Linked DNA regions of Homo sapiens: all the other regions are linked to region 1. The links come from fine-mapping of genetic effects on gene expression. A gene starts in region 1. Each other region holds a variant in brackets. All regions are shown on one strand. Distances are between the middles of the regions.

The links. PIP is the estimated chance that this variant, and not a neighbour inherited with it, causes the effect.
Region 2: its variant is the best candidate, but not a certain one, in a credible set for the expression of GPRC5B in whole blood (TOPMed, PIP 0.77).
Region 3: its variant is the best candidate, but not a certain one, in a credible set for the expression of GPRC5B in whole blood (TOPMed, PIP 0.51).

What each region holds. Positions count from the first base shown.
Region 1 is chr16:19,882,562-19,886,561 of GRCh38, reverse strand. It overlaps GPRC5B (G protein-coupled receptor class C group 5 member B), which reads left to right and starts at 1,714. Exons shown (of 4, transcript NM_016235.3): 1 at 1,714-1,835. RefSeq lists a silencer at 1,161-1,455 and enhancers at 2,971-3,701, 3,702-4,000.
Region 2 is chr16:19,680,687-19,684,686 of GRCh38, reverse strand. VPS35L (VPS35 endosomal protein sorting factor like) reads right to left here. Exons shown (of 31, transcript NM_020314.7): 28 at 2,297-2,462. Among named protein-coding and RNA genes, the nearest start is that of KNOP1, 36 kb to the left of the region's middle. The variant G/A (reference allele first, on the strand shown) is at 2,280.
Region 3 is chr16:19,614,008-19,618,007 of GRCh38, reverse strand. It overlaps VPS35L (VPS35 endosomal protein sorting factor like), which reads right to left. Exons shown (of 31, transcript NM_020314.7): 13 at 1,817-1,894; 14 at 1,200-1,322. Among named protein-coding and RNA genes, the nearest start is that of VPS35L, 60 kb to the right of the region's middle. The variant A/G (reference allele first, on the strand shown) is at 2,364.

The DNA.
Region 1 (4,000 bases):
AGGCATGTGCGATGAAAAAGATCTCCATTTTGCAGACGTTGAGGACATGTGGCTCACGAAAGTGAACTTGCCCACGTTGACAAAAGGATCTCGGCGTCAGTTCCAAGAGCTGCCACCAGGTGACAGTGCCCATCCACTTTCCAATTGCGCAGTCTGGCGGGAACACACTTTGGGTCGTCCCGCAAACATTTAATGAGCGCCTACTGTGCCTGGAACTGTTCTGGGCTCTGAGGATCCATGCAAATAAACCAGGAGTGGGGCGAAAAACTGCCATTATGGTTCTTCCTTTCCATTTTCCCTTGAATATAATAAAAGGTATCCCAGAGATGCGTGCCCAAGGGGGATGTGGCCTAACCGGACCGGAACTGGGAGGCTGGCAGGGAGGGATGGGAGTATCTGGAAGGGCCACGGTCCCCAAAGATCAGGGGCTGCCACTATTCCCAGAAGGAGGTGTTCTGCATCTCCCCTTCCTGCAGCCCCCGGGAGAGGGGAGCAGGGGTCCGTCCTATCCCTTTTGGTCTTATGTGGCTGGGATGGTTGCGGCGACGGGGGTAGAGATTGGGGGGCGCACCGCGGAGGGAGAAAGGAAATCTCACCCTGAGAATCTGGAGTGCAGGGAAGGGATGCTGCTCAAAGGTCTGTTTCTGGCTTTGGCGGGGGGCCACCTGAGACTGCCAGGGTTTGATGGTCTGAAGGTCACCCAGGGAACCAGCCCCATATGGGGTGCCGGAGCGCAGCTCCCAGGCCTGGTCGAAGCAATGCGACCTCGGAGAGGCCTGAGGACTAGGACGGGGTGAGGGGGACTCAGAGACGGCTGCCCCGGACCCCTCCTTCAAGCAGGTCCCACGGCCGCCCAGCGGACACGCGTCCGGGCTGTGCCCTGACCGTCTGCGGAGCGCACGGCCAGTGGCCCGGGCCGCTGAGTGTGTGAGCCCTGAAGGGCAGTGGACATGTGCGTACGTGGGTGATGTGTGCGGTAGGGGTGGTGGCGATCCTGCGTAGGGACCCACGTGAGGGGTGCACCGACTGGACGTGTGTGTTTCGAGGGGCCAAGGAAGCGGGTGTTGGTCCCAGTGTGCGTAAACGGACAACGACATCTGGGAGTTGGGCAGTGAGGAGAGAGAAGAGTGTGTCCAGGAGGAACCTGCCTGGAGGAGGCCTAGCGGTGTGTGTGCGCCTAGGTGTATACCGGGGCGTTGGTGACTTCGAGAGGCACCGGGCGGGATCGATCCTCTCTGCGTCCTGGACCTGGTGCTGGTGTGTTTCGGGGAAGTTACTGCTTATGAACCCCCCTTGGAGCGTGGCCTGGGGGCAGGAAGGCTTCCGCGCTGGGACCCCTGGGTCGCGATACCTCCCTCGGTAAGTGTATTGGCTAGGGGAGTGTTCCCGCAAATGGATCTACCCTGGGGAGTTGCCCGGCTCGTCTGGACTGCTTACGGGCGCACTGACGTTGTGGGGGGAATGTCCCCGAATTGGGGGCACGAGGTCGGGGGAATCGTCTCTGAGATCCGGGCTAGAAGCTACGAGCTTGGGCTCCGGGGGTGCATGCAGACGGCGCCTAGCCCCGCGCGGAACCGCCGGCGGGACCGGGGGTGGGGCTCGGAGGCCCGGGGGCGGGGCCGGCCGGGGGCGGGGGCGGGGGCGGGGCCGCGGCCGCTGCAGCAGCGCGGGCCGGGCCAGGGGGCGCCTCGCGCGGCAGCGACTCTGGCAGGCGCTGCAGTGAAGCTGGACCCGCAGGCGGGCGTGCGTGGAGCGGGGGCCGCGGCCGCGCCGCAGAGATGTGACTCGGGCCGAAGGCCAGCTGGAGCGTCGGCGCTGCGGGGCCGCGGGGGTCGGTAAGTGCGAGCTGCGCCGATGCAGTGGAGGACGCTGTGGGGACCCCAGAAACTTTTCCCGCCGTGGATTTGGGAGAATTGGGGGGTCCGCTTCTTGTGTTTTTCTAAGCGCCCCCCCAACCCAAGCCAGGGAGTTTATTGCTGGGGGAGATGTGGAATCTGGGCGAGGGGAACCACGGTGCGACGAGAGCAGAGCCGTAGAGGGGTGGGCGGGGGAGGGGAGGATCTGGGGACCTTTACGGGGGGAGGGAGACTGTGCCCGGACCAGGTAGAGATCCAAGTCTCCCAGGAGGGTGTGGGGGCGACCACAGGTGAAGGGCAGCTGGGAGGGTAAAGGAGCCCAGCCGTGTCCTAGTGACTCGTCATGTGTGAGGAGCTGCGGGCTGGTCCTGGGGCCGCGTTGGGGGCTGACTGTGGACAGGGCAGACGCAGCCGGGGGCACAAGGGCTGGACTTTGGGGGTGAACAGCCGCACCTGTCGCGGGGGCTGGGGGTCAAGCCCGCAGCCGGCTTGAGTGCGCATTACTCAGCAAGGGGAGGGGGGGACACGGCGGTGGGAGATGGCAGAGCTGAGACCTGGGCTGGGGACGAATGACGGGGAGGGGTGGGGAGGAGGGGGCGGCTGCATACAATGGCGGGGGGGGCAGTGGCGTTTCCCTTCCAGACAGGGGGCACTTGGACCTCTGGAAGAGGCGGCTAGGCTGGAGATAAGGACTAGACCTGTTCTCGGTCCCCTCTCCTTGGGGGACACAGGCTTCCAGCCCCACAAGGACCCCACACATCCCGGGGTCCCTAGCGCTTAGGCCGAAAAGGGAGCGCGCGGGAGGAGCCCGCACCCGCCTTGGCCCCGGGCAGCCGGTTGAACAGCCTGGGAAGGGGCCAACGACCTTGCCCCAGAAATCTCCCCCGTGCAGCGGGTTCACTCCTCCGTCCTTGCTCTGTCACACCCAGGCCTAGCCAGTCCTCCCTTTCCGTCCCCCGTTCGCTAAGGGGGCGGCTCCTTGGAGCGCGGACAAAGGCCCCTGGAGTGTGGCGGGCAGCGGCGTCCCCGCCTGGGGCCCCAGCCCACGCGCCACATTGGCCGCCCAACTGCACCAGGCCGGGGGGCACCTGAACAGAGCCCAGAAAGCCCTGGGGGACCCCGCAAAGACAAGAGAAGTGGGGGAGGGATCTGGCACAAAAACCCCGGCACTTCAGCCAAGGAACCTTCTTAATTCAGAAGTTTCTTCGGTGGGGACTCGGGCTTGCGGAGGATCCAGGCTTTGAGTTAAACTGCATGCAAATGACATGTAAATAGAATGCAAATTGGCATCTGTCGTTTGGAAGCCCTCCCGGCCAGTTTGGTATCTAAGACTGTGGAGTGAACAGTTTGCTATCTGCTCCCTGCTCTAAGCCTGGAAAGGGGTCAGCTGAGTTGGGAAGGGAAGGAGATTCCAGGAGGAAGGAGCCGCCATTTGGGGGCACAGGCAGCAAGACAGGCAGTTTTGTTAGAAAGATAAACTCAGAATCTTTACTGGATTAATATGTTATTTCAAGAAACGTGCCAGGGACAGAACTGGGTGCCTTGTATAAAACGGACAAAACCCCTGCTCTCCCGGGGCTGGGGAAGTGAGTGGACAAACATTAAACAAACCCATAGCAAATGGCTATGAAATCCGATTGGGGTGAGGACGGCCAGGAAAATAAGATGGGGTGATGTAAAAGAAGGTGACAGGGGTGTATGTACCTGAGATGACTGTTCCGGGAGTGACATTTGAGTGGAGCCCAGCTAGAAGAGGGGCCCTCCGCTGGGAGGTCTTGGAGGAAGACTGAACCAGGAGGAAGGCACTGTGCCTGCAAAAGCTTGGAGGTGGGAATGAGCTTAGAGGAACTGAACAAAGGCCATTGTGGCTGGAGCTGTAGGCAGATTTGGGGGTGGGGATAGGGGAATGGTAGGGACCAGCCAGATCATGATCTTTTGGGTCATGGAAAGGAGTTTAGGGTTTATTCTGTTTGGACCAGTGAACCCTTGGAGGGTTTTGAGTGGGAGGCCATGGGATCTGATTTGTAGAAGCTCCCCTGACGTTGACAAGGAAATGGAAAATAGCCCCCCTTTCCATTCTGCCCATGGGGATAGAGAGACGCTGGGAGCCTCCAAGGGGCTCTGTCCAGCCTTGGGGGACCGCT
Region 2 (4,000 bases), 200 kb after region 1:
AGCCCTGGAGTATATCACATTGTCTTTCTGGATCTCCTCTTGCTTACACATCAAATGGGGACATGAATGCCTGTCCTCATAGTAAAGCTGTAAGGATTAAGGGAAAAAGGCCTGTAGAGCCTGATGTAGTCCTTGGCACGCAGTAAGTGCTCAGATCAGGGTAGGCGCCATCATTCTTGCTATGAACCAGCCTCCCTGCATTACATCTTTATCCTCAGTCCCCAGACCCAGCTAGAGAAAGCCTGAGAGGTATGACAGAAGGCAGGCCATCCCTTAAGCACTGCTAATGTGTTCACTGCAACTTGCAAGTGTAGAGTTGGTTTTTTAACTGTAAAGTATACAATTACTGGCCAAAGCACTTTTGACATTAAGACCAATTTTTGGAATCCAAAAATTAGAACTGAGGGTCCGCCAGGCAGGAGGATACTTGGGCTCAGTGGGAAAAGGCCTGGAACTGGGATGTCCTGTGGTAAGTCCAGGACACGAGGAGGCTGCTCCCAACTTGTACTAGCAAGTTCAAAATGTCTGGTAGCAGGTGATCAAGGCCACCTCCTTCCTCCAGAGCACCCAGACAAGGGCTGCTGAGCCTTGGCATCATCTGAGGAGCAGTTGCAAACACCCACACCAGGGTCCTTCCTGAGACTGTGGTAAGGAACAGGCCTGGCACGAAGCTCATGCATGTGTATATTTAGCCATTGTTCCAGTTTATTGTGTAGCACACTGATCCAAAAGAGGGTTCCTCTGAAAAGAGAACACTTAACACTCTGTCAGTGGAAATGCAAATTAGTTCAGCCACTGTGGAAAGCAGTTTTGGAGATTTCTCAAAGAATTGAAAACAGAACTACCATTTGACCCAGCAATCCCATTACTGGGTATATACCCAAAGGAAAATAAATCGTTCTACTGAAAGGACACATGCACACGTATGTTCACTGCAGCACTATTCGCAATAGCAAAAACATAGCATCAACTTAGATGCTCATCAACAGTGGATTGGATAAAGAAAATGTGGTACATACACACAATGGAATACTATGCAGCCCTAAAAAAGAATGAAATCATGGCCTTTGTGGCAACATGGGTGCAACTGGAGGCCATTATCCTAAGTGAACTAGTGCAGAAACAGAAAACTAACTACCGCCATGTTCTCACTTGTAAGTGGGCCCCAAGCATTGGGTACCCATGGGCATAAAGATGGAAACAACAGACATTGGAGACCACTAGAGTGGGGAGGAAGGGGAGGGGACAAGGGCTGAAAAACTACCTATTGGGTACTATCTCATTTGCACCCCAAACCTCAGCATTGCACAATATACCCCTGTCACAAACCTGCACGTATACCTCCTAAATCTAAAATAGAAGTTGAAATTATTATAATTATTTTTTTAAACAGTGTTTCTCCAGACTGGTCTGATGTTCAACATGATCTCAGGTGCTTGTTAAAGATGCAAATTAAGAAGGGAAGGCCAGGTGTGGTGGCTCATGGTTATAATCCCAACACTTTGGGAGGCTGAGACGGGTAGATTACTTGAGCCCAGGCGTTTGAGACCAGCGTAACATGGTGAAACCCCGTCTTCAAAAAAAAATTTAAAAAATTATCCAGGAGCAGTGGCACATGCCTGTATTCCCAGCTACTTGGGAAGCTGAGGTGGGAGGACTGCTTCAGCCTGGGCTGTAAAGGCTGCAGTGGGCCGAGATCACATCACTGCACTCCAGCCTGGGGGACAGAGTGAGACCTTGTCTCAATCAATCAATCAATCAATCAATCAATCAATCAAGGGCAGGATGGGGCTGAAGAATCTGTACTCTTTTTTTTCCTTTTTGGGATGGTGTTTTCACTCTTGTTGCCCAGGCTGGAGTACAGTGGTGCCATCTTGGCTTACTGTAACCTCTGCCTCCCAGGTTCAAGCGATTCTCCTGCCTCAGTCTCCCGAGTAGTTGGGATTACAGGGGTGCACCATCAGGCCTGGCTAATTTTTGTTTTTTTAGTAGAGACAGGGTTTGGCTCTGTTGGCCAGGCTGGTCTGGAACTCTTGACCTCAGGTGATCCGCCTGCCTTGGCCTCCCAAAGTGCTGGGATTACAGGCGTGGGCCACTGCACCCGGCCCAAGAATCTGTACTCTTAAGAGTTGCTCCAGGTAAATCTTAGATCAGGTAAATACAGTGAGACCCTGGACTAGAAGTTCATGGAAGCTAAAATACAAGGGAGGAAAAAATAAAAGAGAAAATGAAAGCATTCTGTCTGCCTTTCATGAAATCCATGCGGAGCATGGTTTGGT[G/A]GGGGAGGCTCTGCTACCTTTGTCTATGTGGTAAAGGTACGTCTCCTGGCTCATGGCGGAGAGGAGATGCAGGACGCAGGTGTAGATGCGGATTTTCTCATCGCTGTTGTCCTCCCAGGTGTAGTCCTGGATCACGTTGAGAAGCTCTCGAACAAGAAACAGGACCCCATGTTCAGGATGATCCTAGCAGAGAACCGAAAAAAGGATAAATAATCCCAAAGATGAAGCAGGGAGGGAAAAAGAAAATCAACACAGAAGCCCAGATCCTCCCGCAGCAGCTGTAGAGAAATTAACGTTGTCAGTTACTGAACAAAGGCAAGACCCACTCACAAGCCTGGTTAAACAATACAGAGGAAAATGACAAAACGTGATTCCCACGAATCAACACGCTCCTGTCTGGGCAAACGAGCTTTGAGAATCCCTTTTTGGATCCCAAAAAGGAGAAGGCAAAGTTACCTGTCAGCTTAATGGCCTGTTTCCAAAATTACACTCTTATTTTTCTGTGGGTGGTGGGAGTTAAAAAAAAAGGAAGCCCTGTTCCAACCACAAAAGCAGGATCGCGGGTATCGTAGCAGATGGAACGGTAGAAGCCACCTACGCTGGGTGAGCCCCCGGATGATCCCTGCCACCACTCGAGGCAGTGACTTTAAATAGAGCCTCACTCTTTGGGATGCTCAACAACGGTAACAGCCAAATGGAGGACGCTCTCTTGGGAGAGGCAAAACCTGAGAGACAGTCACAGAGTTTATAGCAAACAGTGTTTCTCAGATGCTAAACTGAATCTATAAAAAGTTTTGGGGTGTAAAAAAGTAAGCAGCTTCAATTCCATTCCAAAAAGGTGTATGTGAGTCTGGGGATGCCCTGCTGAAAGCTCTCCAGACTTCTCACTCTGTGCAGAAGCTCTGCACGGCCAGCCCCTTCCATGGCCTTGCTAGCCCACCCCATGCGGGTCCCCTTCCCTTACCCCAGCCACATTAAGGTGGGGAGAACAGCACGATTGGAACCCGCAGCGGCAGGGGGAACAGCATGATTGGAACCTGCAGCGGCAAGAGGCCATCTAGCCCAAGATGTAGTCTTGCTTGCAGGAACAAAGCCATCGCCAAAACATGGCCCAGGAGGAATGGGGGAGAAATACCCCAGCCTCGCTTTCCTCCTGCCCTGCATATGCTGCTGCCTCCTACTGGCTGAACAAATTGGGAGCTAGAGGAAGGATAGGTGAGGCAGTCCCCAGAGGCCAGTCTCCCCCACACACAGTAGGACAAAGGGCACAGAGTGGCACCAGGGGCTGGCACACACGTCCAGGTGCTGGCCTCCAGCCAGGCACGTTCTCTCTGACTAGAGTCTGTGCCCCAGGGCTTGGCCAGACGGCTCCTTGGTAGCCTGCAGTTCTCATCTTACACATTAGCTCTTTAATGAGGCCTTCCCTGACATTCCATCTGCAGTCCTCTTACTCTCTCTTCATCACAAATCATCCTGTTTTTTTAGGGGGGGGGCGGGTTCTGAGACAGGGTCTCACTCTGTCACTCTGGCTACAGTACAGTGGCACAATCACAGCTCGCTGGAGCCTTGACTCTGAGCTCAAGCGATCTTCCACCTCAGCCTCCTGAGGTGCTGGGACTACAGGTACATACCACCACGCTTGGCGAATTTCTATTTTTTGTAGAGATGAGGTCTTGCCATGTTGCCCAGGCTGGTCTCAAGGTCCTGGGCTCAAGCGATCC
Region 3 (4,000 bases), 270 kb after region 1:
TCAAGCGATTCTCTGCCTCAGCCTCCTGAGTAGCTGGGACTACAGGCACAAACCACCACGCACAGTTAATTTTTGTATTTTTTGTAGAGACAGGGTCTTTACAAAAGACAGGCCTGGGCAACATAGTGAAACTCCATCTCTACAAAAAAATACAAAAAATTAGCCAGGCATGGTGATATACACCTATATATCCATGTTAGCCAGGCTGGTCTTGAACTGCTGGCCTGAAGTGAACTACCCACGTCAGCCTCCCAAAGTGCTGGGATTACAGGCATGAGCCACCGTGCCCGGCCTATCACAGTCTTCATGACAGTTTGAATTGGTGTTCTACTAAAACTGCTTCTCAGTCTTGGAAAAGAAAGAAAATATGTGTCTGCTATGATTCTGATGTCACTTCAATTCCTGACAATACTTCAACTGGCAAAAAAGAAAAAAGAAAAGAAAAATAAAATTATAAAAGAAATTAAGCATCTGAGTTTTGTTTTCCTTCCATAAAATACCTGCTCTACAGACTTTATTGGATTATTATAAACACAAAAGGGGTACATGAAGGTTAAGTGAAGACGCAATAAGGCTTGTTGGCCCTGGAGCCCAATTCTATGGGTTTGTATCAAGTCACCAACCATCTTCCTTTTTGTTTCTTTTTTAATGAGACAGTGTCTTGCTCTGTCACTCAGGCTGGAGTGCAGTAGTACAGTCACAGCTCATTGTAGCCTTGAACTCTGGGGCTCAAGTGGTCCTCCCACCTCAGCCTCCTGAGTAGCTGGGACTATAGGCATATATCACCGTGTCTGGCTAATTTTTTCTATTTTTTTGTAGAGATGGAGTTTTGCTATGTTGCCAAAGCTCGTCTCAAACTCCTAAAATCAAGTGATCCTCCCACCTTGGCCTTGCAAAGTGCTGGGATTACAGATATGAGCACACCCAGCCACCAAACTGCTTTCTAGCTGTGTGGCCTCACTTAGGTACATGGCCTCTGGAGCTACCACATTCCCCTTCCACAGCTGTCAAAATGAGACTATCTCAGAAAAGCACTCAGCACAGAGCCAGCCACCATGGCAAGCCCTCTATAAAGGCTGGCTAGCACTAACATTGCTATAGCTGTTATGAAAGGGTCCCATTAACGTTAAAGGGCACAGTGGGCAGGGGCTGTCACCATACAGGAGGTGAGCGTCACACTGAAGCCACCTGGCAGTTACCTCGGGGGCATGGTAGGAGATGCACTGGAAGATCCAGTCCATGGCAGGCGGGTACAAGGGGAGGTAAGATGGGAGCTCCACTCCTTGGACCACCAGCTGGTTCTGGACCGTATCCCCATGAATCTACAGGAGGCCAAACAAACACTTAGAAAAGGAGGGGAAAAACCAAACAACAAACAAAACATACACAACTCACAGACTGTGCATACTTGTAAGCATGTGGACAGCCCTGAGAGAAATAGCCTGGTTTCTCGGTTGTTTTTTTTTTTTAAACCAAAAAAAAACACAGAAAGTTTCTCATGTCACCAAGCCGAGCTGTTTTGGGAATGAGCGCTGTGGAAAGCAGGAACCTGATAAAAATGGAGCCAGCAGATGCTCAGAAGCAAGGCTGATCGACTGGAGACGTTTCCTGTTAACACATGCATATTAACTTTCTCCGCTTATTCAGTACAATCAACACATTTTAATTGTCTACAACAGAAGCTAGTGTAATTTTCCAGGGCTTGCACATTTAAAGAGCTTTAAGGCATTCTCCACTTGGAAAACCAACTGGGTTTTGTGAATTTGCTATCATAGAACTGTTATATCGATGAGCTATTCTGATAGTGTTCTCTTACCTGTTTGAACGTAAGGAGGAAGTCAAAAAAGTTCTTATTTAGGGTTTCTTTGAGATGTGGGGCCACTTCCATTCCCACCTGCAGCCAGACAAATGGAAAAACTGGTTGCAAATAATGACTATAGTATGATTTTATTTTTGGAAATTAAAAAATATATATACCTATGTTTATAGACACAGAAAAAGTCCAGAAAATTATTATTATTATTATTATTATTATTATTTTGAGATGGAGTCTCGCTCTGTTGCCAGGCTGGAGTGCGGTGGGTGCGATTTCAGCTGACTGCAACCACCGACTCCCTGGTTCAAGGGATTCTCCTGCCTCAGCCTCCCGAGTAGCTGGAATTACAGGCATGTGTCACCAGGCCTGGCTGATTTTTGTATTTTTAGTAGAGACAGGGTTTCACCACATTGGCCAGGATGGTCTTGATCTTCTGACCTCATGATCTGCCCACCCTGGCCTCTCAAAGTGCTGGGATTACAGGTGTGAGCCACAGCGCCCGGCCTATTTTTTTTTTCCTTATCTGTTTTTTGTTTTGTTTTGAGAC[A/G]GAGTCTCGCTCTGTTGCCCAGGGTGGAGTGCAGTGGCACGATCTTGGCTCACTGCAACCTCCACCTCTCAGGTTCAAGCAATTCTCCTGCCTCAGCCTCCCAAGTAGCAGGGATTACAGGCATGTGTCACGACACTTGGCTAATTTTTGTATTTTTAGTAGAGACGGGGTTTCACCATGTTGGCCGGGCTGGTCTCCAACTCCTGACCTCAGATGATCTGCCTGCCTCGGCCTACCAAAGTGCTGGGATTACAGGTGTGAGCCACCACGCCCAGCCTGATTTCTTTTTCAATAAACATGTATTGCTTTTATAAGAAAGACCACAGAAGCTATTTTTAATAAAAAAGGGCAACATTTGCAGAAATCATCTTTGCCCTTCCCCAAAGGTATTGAATGTATTTCTGAACAGACGACCAAGAGAACAAATCAATACAGAACTAAAAAGGAATGTACTCTCAAGATTGTGCATACAATAAAAAAATGATAAACACACATGGGGTTGTACTTATTAGACCAAGCACAAAGATTACGGTACGTGAGAAAGTCAGCTTGAATTCCAGATGTGGTGCTGCCCCCGTTACATGCTTAGTTAAAAGCTATACAAATTCATTCTTTGCAAGGCAGAGATAAGAGCAGACATAAATTTTAATACATTTTATGCAATTTTATATAACATGAGCATGAAGTGTAACAATGCTATAATCCACTGGGTCCTGACTTCATTGTTAAAAAACAGACTGTAACATTTCTAGCTGAAGAAATTTACTAATCATAGAGAAGGTGCCAGTACTGGGGTTAGATGGAAAAGTAGAGGGATGAGCTACGGAGGGGAGTTCATAGGTTTAAAACACAACATCACAGTGTTTCTTAAACTGAGCTCCTCAGAAATGCTTCGTTTCCAAATTGCTGCTTAACCGCAAAAACAACTTCGTAGGCTGGGCTGCAGTGGCTCACACCTGTAATCCCAGCACTTTGGGAGGCCCAGGTGGGCCAATCACTTGAGGTTAGGAGTTTGAGACCAGCCTGGTCAACATGGTGAAACTCTTTCTGTACTAAAAACACAAAAATTAGCCGGGTGTGGTGGCGCACGCCTGTAGACCCAGCTACCTGGGAGGTTGAGGTGGGAGGATCGCTTGAACCCGGGAGGTGGTGGTTGCAGTGAGCAAGATTGTGCCACTGCACTCCAGCCTGGGCAACAAAGTGAGACTGGTTCCCTATTTCTTCAAATGGGGAGAGATTTCTCCCATTCACCTTCCACTACCCAGAGGTCATGATGGGTAACACTAATAATGTTTTTCAGATGGCATTTGAGAACCACCAGGGTGTTAAATTCCAAGAGCAGCTCTGTGATTGCTGGGTACAGGAAGTGCTGTTTTCAAGGACAAGCACATAGATTAAATATATATATATATGCTAACAAGAAATATCAGATCCAGTTCTACAGTGTTCTGATTCTCCTTCCACTTAATCATATTGTAGAAAAGACAATAATTATCTGTTAGGTGACAGCAAAGGCTGGCCTGGTGGCTGAGCCATGGAGATGAGCTGAAGCGGCTGTGAGTTAGGAGTTAATCATACCTTCCTTTAATAACAGCTTCAAGCTCCCCCCACGCTCTACCCACTCAGAGCTTTTGTTT